2 linked regions of the Homo sapiens genome follow. The protein of the gene in region 2 interacts with the protein of the main gene of each other region in a pairwise test. Each region holds a gene or a part of one and is shown on either strand. Other genes may lie near its edges.

Region 1 (3,823 bases), on a different chromosome or scaffold from region 2:
TCCACCCACCTTGGCCTCCCAAAGTGCTGGGATTACAGCCTATTTTTATTTTTTTTTTGAGATGGAGTTTCGCTCTTGTTGCCCAGGCTGGAGTGCAATGGAGCAATCTTGGCTCACCGCAACCTCCAACTCCCGGGTTCAAGTGATTCTCCTGCCTCAGCCTCCCAAGTAGCTGGGATTACAGACATGTGCCACCAGGCCCGGCTAATTTTGTATTTTTAGTAGAGACGAGCTTTCGCCATGTTGATCAGGCTGGTCTCGAACTCCTGACCTCAGGTGATCCACCCGGCTTGGCCTCCCAAAGTGGTGGGATTACAGGCATTAGCCACTGCGCCCAGCCCAGTCCCATTTTAAAGAAGAAATTGAAGTTTAAGCTTGAACAATTTGCTCGAGGTCACACAACACAGGTAGAGCCTGGTTGCAAACCTAAGTCTGTCTGACTCTGACACCTATATCTTAACCATATTGTACTGCACACCCCTCCACTCAGGTAGAAAAAAGAGAGATACCCTGCTAGATGACTTCATGGTTCTCAACACTCAGGTGATGAATAGAATTTGGTCTATTCATTTTACCTCAGACCCTCATCTCAGCCCTTCAGAGAATTTTAACAATACTCTCAACAGAACTAAGAGAAGCCACAGCAACTATGGACAAGGACTGAGATTACTCACATATTGATTCCTCAGCTCTGATATGATGAGCCGAAGGCTGATATATTCTTTCTCATCAATCTCTGTCACGGTGCGGCGATAGTCCTCCTGCAAGGAGGGTACAGGAAAAAGCTAGTCCCCAAAGCCCAATTGTTTCCAGACAGCTCCTTCCCAGTAACAGTCACTCTTCACTATCCTGCCACCTCCACCCTCAGGCCACAAACCCCTTACTTACCACATGGGGATATTTAGCTATTTTAGAAACCAATTTGGCTCTTGTAATATAATATCTGGAAAGAGAGAGAAGAGGAGGAAGATGCAGGAGACCCTTGATGGTGCCCACCACCTCATCAGCCCCCAACGCCTCGGCCAAGCCCAAGCAGCCCTACCTAGAAATCTGGTCCAGATAAGATGCAGCTTCACTCTCAACAGTTCTTAGCTCTGCAACTGTTTCCTCCTAAAACAAACAAACAACAGGTGCATCAAAAGCCACTTCCATGTCATCCACAGCAGCCCCAAAGAAAAAGGAAAAAAAGGTAACGCAGGGGAGATGAGAGTATCTCCCAAGCCACTCTTCCCAGTATGTAATTCAAGTACATTACCTGAATGGACACCCCAAAGTTGTTTCCATCTTCTATCCTGGGAATCAGGAGCTGTACCCACATTTTGACCTGGAGGTCAAAACATATATGAGGACCTTTGCCTGAAGGCTGAAGCCATGAAGTACACAATTCAGACGGCTGGAGCCAGATGCCAGGAACACAGAAGTCAAAATACCTAGTCTGGCCAGGCATGGTGGCTCATGCCGGTAATCCCAGCAATTTGGGACCCCGAAGCGGGTGGATCACCTGAGGTCAGGAGTTCGAGACCAGCCTGGCTAACCATGGCCAAAATGGTGAAACCCCGTCTCTACTAAAAATACAAAAAGTAGCTGGGTGTGTTGGCAGGTACCTGTAATCCCAGCTACTCGGGAGGCTGAGGCAGGAGAATCACTTGAACCCAGGAGGCAGAGGTTGCAGTGAGCCGAGATGGCGCCACTGCACTCCAACCTGGGTGATGGAGCGAGACCCCATCTCAAAAAAAAAACTCAAAAAAACCTAGTCTGCCAATTCCCATACCACCCGTACATCCACTGTTTTTTGCACTTCAGGTGGGGTACTTGGGGCCGGCCCATAGGTCACCAGCCTGTGCCTCACCGTGTTACATTTCTCAATCAACAGCCGGATCTCAGGTTTCACTTTCTCAATAATGTCCACCAGCTGCTGGTTGCTTTTCAGCATCCCATTGGGCATCACAAACACCTTGGTTCCTGGCAGAGATGTGAAGGTCAAATGATCAGGGAAGAGGGAAGGACACAGCATCCCCTGCCTCTCTCTCATTTTCCCTATACCTATCAGATGCTATGACCTCTGCCTTTGTCACAATCCTACCATGACACCACTATTAGAATCAACGAGAATGTATGGAAAAAAAGAACTACAGATGAGCGTCTAAAACATAACAAAAGTCTTAAATCCTCTGTTTATTGGAAAACCAGGTTTAGAGCACTCAATAACAAGCACGTTTGGAGGAGCTGGGAATGCTACCTCTGGGAAGTAAGATTAGATCTTGCCTCCTGGTCAGGAGAACACTAGATCCATCCTGCTTCTCAGGGTTGCAAGTCAGGGATGGGGTGAGGGGAGGTGAGGTAAGGGTGCCTCTTACCTTGGAAGGCTTCTTCACACTCATCCAACCTTCGCTTCTTATAAGTGGGCTAAGGATACAAAGAGGCAGGGATGAGCCTAGTTTTGACACCCACATCTCCATCACAAGATACCCTTCAAGCAAGTTTAATCCCTTCCTCAGCCTCATAGCTTATGTTATTAATTTCTGCACAATTTCCTAAGTACATACAAAGCTTTAAGAAAGGTTATTGGAGGCAAGGCGCGGTGGCTCATGCCTGTAATCCCAGCAATTTGGGGGGCCGAGGTGGACAGATCACCTGAGATCAGAAGTTTGAGACCAGCCTAGCCAACATAGTGAAACCCCATCTCTACTAAAAATACAAAAAGTTAGCCAGGCGCGGTGGTTCATGCCTGTAATCCCAGCACTTTAAGAGGCCAAGGTAGGTGGATCACAAGGTCAGGAGTTCAAGACCAGCCTGGCCAAGACAGTGAAACCTCATCTCCACTAAAAATACAAAAATTAGCTGGGCGTGGTGGCAAGCACCTATAATCCCAGCTACTTGGGAGGCTGATGCAGAGAACTGCTTGAACCCAGGAAGCAGAGGTTGTAGTGAGCCGAGATTGCACCACTGCACTCCAGCCTGGGCAACAGAGCAAGACTCCATCTCCAAAAAATAAAAATAAAAAAAATTAGCCGGGTGTGGTGGCAGGCACCTGTAATCCCATCTACTCGGAAGGCTGAGGCAGGAGAATTGCTTGAACCTGGGAGGTAGAGGTTGCAGTGAGCCGAGATTGTGCCACTGCACTCCAGCCTATGTGACAAGAGTGAAACTCCACCTCAAAAAAAAAAAAAAGGAAATAAAGAAAAGGTTCTTGGGCTGGGCGCCATGGCTCACACCTGTAATCCCAGCACTTTGGGAGGCCAAGGCACACAGATCGCTTGAGCTCAGGAGCTTGAGACCAGCCTGGGCAACATAGGGAAACCCTGTCTCCACAAAAAATACAAAAACTAGCTGAATGTGATGGCACATGTACCTGTAGTCCCAGCTACCTGGGAGGCTGAGGTAGGAGGATCACTTGAACCCAGGAGTTTGAGGTTGCAGTGAGCTGAGATTAAGCCACTGCACTCCAACCTGGGTGACAGAGTGAGACTGGGTTCCCCCTCAGAGAAAGAAAGAAAAGGTTCTTACCACAAAGCAAATTACGCTCTAGTTGGGAAGACCAATCTTTCCAGAAACACAATACATTAAGTATTATAAAGAATAGGAAAAAAGAACCAATCAAAGCAGGGAAGATAATTAAGGGAATACGTACAAATCTGCTGGTTCCACAAAGGAACACATTATTCAGTTAACAAACATGTATTCAGCAATTGCTAGGGACCAGGATCAACACTAGGTGCTGGGAATACAAAGATTAAGATAGCTCCTGCCGGCCGAGCACGATGGCTCATGGCTGTAATCCCAGCACTTTGGGAGGCTGAGGCGGGCGGATCACCTGAGGTCA
Region 2 (3,600 bases):
AAAAAAGATGTGTAGTCCAATCCAATTAGTAAAGCTATTTGTTATATCATATATAACTTTACAGGACAGTCTGGACTATCTCTTCAAAGGGTCACTCAAACCTACTGTTTCAAGGTAAGATTTTCGTAAACTTTTCCTTGGCAATCTTGAGAAAGCATCACTGAACATCTTCAATAATAATAAGTTTTTGTTTTTAGAGCTGGAAAAGTAGGTAACAATATTCTTATAAAGTTTTACATGAATTATCAGAAATTCTTACTCTCAGGCCTTTCTCCTCCCTTTTGTACTGTCTTCAATGAAAATTACGGATCCAGTTCTCAGGACCCTCATCCGAATCACACCACCACCACGTGACTGGGTTTACAATTTGTTTTTATGTTTAGTAGGCTTATTCCCTTGTTTAAAATACGATTACAGTGTACTATACTCCTACACTAAAGAAAAAACATGCCTAGCTACCAAAAGAAAATAAACCATAACCGTATTTTGAAGTATTTTACTTCTAGAGCCTTAATGCCATCGGAAAAAAAAACTGCACAAAATACAACTCTTGGAAGATTTAACATCGAAAGCTCAATTTCAATACACACACATCTACCATCACTGGGTTGTTTTAACTGTTTCCCAAAAGTAAAACTTAAAAACAAATTCTAACATATATACGCCAAACTACGCAAAACAATTGCTACATCACCCACCCCCACCCCGAAAGTTCAAAAAGCAACAATTATAGTTCACTGGGCCCAGACGACCTACTTGAAACATGCCCATTTCACATTCCTATTTGATAAATCACCCACTTTTCTGCTCACAAAATCATCCCCGAAGTCCTTATTAACGTTTAAACATGAAAAAAAAAAAACCCTTTGGAAAATCAGTACGTACTCTTTTCGAAGTTCCAAATCTGGAATATAAGGGCCGGCTAAGCGTCCTTTATTCCTCCCAGGAGACTTTCCGTTTATCTAGCTGCCCTAGAGACCAGAAAGCTAGGGAGAGTACGCCCCTTCCCCCTCCCGTCAGCAGCCAAGCCTGGCTTAAAACCCTTCGCCACCGGGCGGCAGAATTACAAAGGAGGCCGTCTGCCTCCTTTGTCCTGGATTTGGGAGTTGAGCACCTTCGTCGCCATTGGCTTTCCTCCCCCAGCTCCAGCCTCTCTCATCTTGGGAATCTGCGTCAGAAGTCACTCGCAGTCCCGTCAGCCCAGGTAGCCCTGCCGAGACTGCGGAGGAAGGGAGGCCGCGGTGGGAGGCCAGGCCCATCCGGCGCCATTTCCATCGGGAGCGCGCCCGGCAAACCCGATCCTCCCTCCACCCAACTGCCCGGCCTTTCCCTGCTCGCTTCACTACCCACCCTCATCCCTTCCAGGGAGCTTTGACCACCCCCTCCCCTGGCCTTCTAGATCAGTTTTCGGAAGCTGGGGAACAAAAAAGTAAAAAGAGCGGGGAAGGGCGGGAAGCCGAGGTGGCCGCGCCACTGTACCCAAAATGGCGGAGGCCAAGCCAGCAGGGAAAGGGGAAAATGCTGGATGTCCCCTACTTCGGGCCTCGGCGTCGTCCACTGAATTCCACCTGAGCAAGTCCTCCCATCGGCAAGCCGCCCTCCCTGAAGTGGGAGATGGTCGGGGAGGCGCAGCCCCGCCGCTTCCAAGCGGCGGCCTCCGAGCGGCGACCACCCCACTACCCCCCAACCCAGCCCCTCCCGGCCTTTCGTCCTTCTCCCGACTCCGCTCTCGAAACCACCAGCCCAACCTACCCCCTTTTACTTCAGATACCCTGTCAGGCGATAGTTACGCCGACTCTGGTGCTCGCGGGGTCCAGTTCAAAGAAGGGAGAAGTCGTTTGCCTCGTGTAGCGCTCGCCACAACGGTTCTCCCAACCGTCTCCAGCGGTGACAACCGCTTAGGGAGCTGCGCAGCACAGCTACTGGCTTGGGGGGATGGGAGGGAACGAGCAAGAAGTGGGGGGCGGAGCGAGAACTGCGAAGGCGGCCGGCCCCACTCTCGCGAGACGGGAAAGTCGGTTTCGCATGGCGCTGGCGGCACGCAGCGCGCCTGCGCGGTGGTGGGTTGCGCAGCTGTTGGGGGCGAGGTAGACCGAGCAGAGGCTGTTCCAGTTAAAGAGCTGCAGCGCGCACCGTTTTTCTTGCTTACGTTAGAACCATCCAGTTTTCAGAGCGTACCATTCTGCCGCCTCGGGGCGATGGCAATGGCAGTTCTGCCAGTGTGTAGAAGGAACCGTGCCGTAGCGCTCTGGAGAAGTTCTCCGGTGATCTGCCCCCACCGTGAACAAATTCTGTGAGGGCCCCGCCCTGGCTAGGCATCGACGGCGCGGAAAGGGCCCCACGTGGTTCGACCGGCAAACGCGGGGCGGATTTTCTGGTCCACCATGTTTGCATTGTGCGGTGAAAAATAGGAGTGTTTCTGGGCCGCGAAGATGAAAGCGTCCACTGGGGCCGATTTCGGCTCTCGGGCTGGGTGTCCGCCTCCTTCCCCTGGCCCAGAGTTGCTGGCCGCCCGCCAGCGCGCTTCGTCCCAATGTGCCGCGCGGGATCCGGGTTTCTTGGGTGTATTCATGTCCACCACGTTACCGTTCTCTCTGCAAATCCTTCCTCTTTTTCTCCTCTGGCCTTCGCGTTTTCATCTCTCCCGCCGTCAGTGCCTCGGAGACTGATTAGCCTGTGGAGGCCGACGTTGGGTTTTTTTTATAGTTTTGCGTTGTTGAAAATTGCGCTTCCAAGTGACACCTAATAAATAAGTACATTTTGGTTTTGCTGTCATGTCACCAAGGTTCCTAATGACACATTATGGCTTTTTTTTTAAGTTCCAAAAAAGGCTGGCCGCGGTGGCTTACGCCTTTGAGAGGCCGAGGGGGAGGATCGCTTGAGCGTAAGAGTTGGAGACCAGCCTGGGCAACATAGTGAGGTGCTGTCTCTACAAAAAATACAAAGATTAGCTGGGCGTGATGGCAGCGCACGGGAGTAGATGGGACTCCCGAGTAGTCCCAGCTACACAGGAGGCTGGGCAAAAGGATGGCTTGTGCCCTGGAAGTTGAGGCTGCAGTGAGCCGTGATTGCGCCAGTGCACTCCAGTCTGGGAGACCGAGGGAGACTCTTGTCTCAAACACAAAGAAAAACCCCGAATTTCTGCGCAGAGGGTTAAGGGGAAGCCTGGTAAAGAGATCAGTGCAAGTTCATCCTGGCTAACACGGTGAAACCCTGTCTCTACTAAAAATACACACACACACACACACACACACACACACACACACACACACACACACGCCGGGCGTGGTGGCGGGCCCCTGTAGTCTCAGCTACTCAGGAGGCTGAGGCAGGAGAATGGCGTGGACCCGGGAGGCAGAGCTTGCATTGAGCCCAGATCGCGCCACCGCACTCCAGCCTGGGCGACAGAGCGAGACTCCGTCCCACCTCCCTTTCCCCCCCAAAAAAATCAGTGCAAGTTCAAGTACAAAGGTAGGAACATACGTGGGGTGTCAGGAAGATGGGGTAATGTTAGAAATGTGGATGAAGCTAGATTGTAGACAATCTTCAATGTCCGGCCAAAAGACTTTCAACTTTGTGGTACAGACATTGGGAAGCCTG

The links. The genes of interacting proteins can lie anywhere in the genome.
Region 1: the proteins of HNRNPH3 (region 2) and PSME3 interact in binary tests that used the Homo sapiens proteins (3 or more experiments, as listed by UniProt).

The regions. Positions count from the first base shown.
Region 1 is NC_000017.11:42,836,232-42,840,054, reverse strand, and holds part of PSME3 (proteasome activator complex subunit 3), read right to left. Parts: intron 2,407-3,823; coding exon 2,358-2,406; intron 1,963-2,357; coding exon 1,850-1,962; intron 1,364-1,849; coding exon of another isoform or gene 1,325-1,363; coding exon 1,256-1,324; intron 1,111-1,255; coding exon 1,043-1,110; intron 944-1,042; coding exon 889-943; intron 762-888; coding exon 675-761; intron 1-674. UniProt on the Homo sapiens protein: Subunit of the 11S REG-gamma (also called PA28-gamma) proteasome regulator, a doughnut-shaped homoheptamer which associates with the proteasome. 11S REG-gamma activates the trypsin-like catalytic subunit of the proteasome but inhibits the chymotrypsin-like and postglutamyl-preferring (PGPH) subunits.
Region 2 is NC_000010.11:68,330,388-68,333,987, reverse strand, and holds the start of HNRNPH3 (heterogeneous nuclear ribonucleoprotein H3), read right to left. Parts: upstream 1,925-3,600; 5' UTR 1,772-1,924; exon of another isoform or gene 1,753-1,771; intron 1,205-1,752; exon of another isoform or gene 886-1,204; intron 1-885.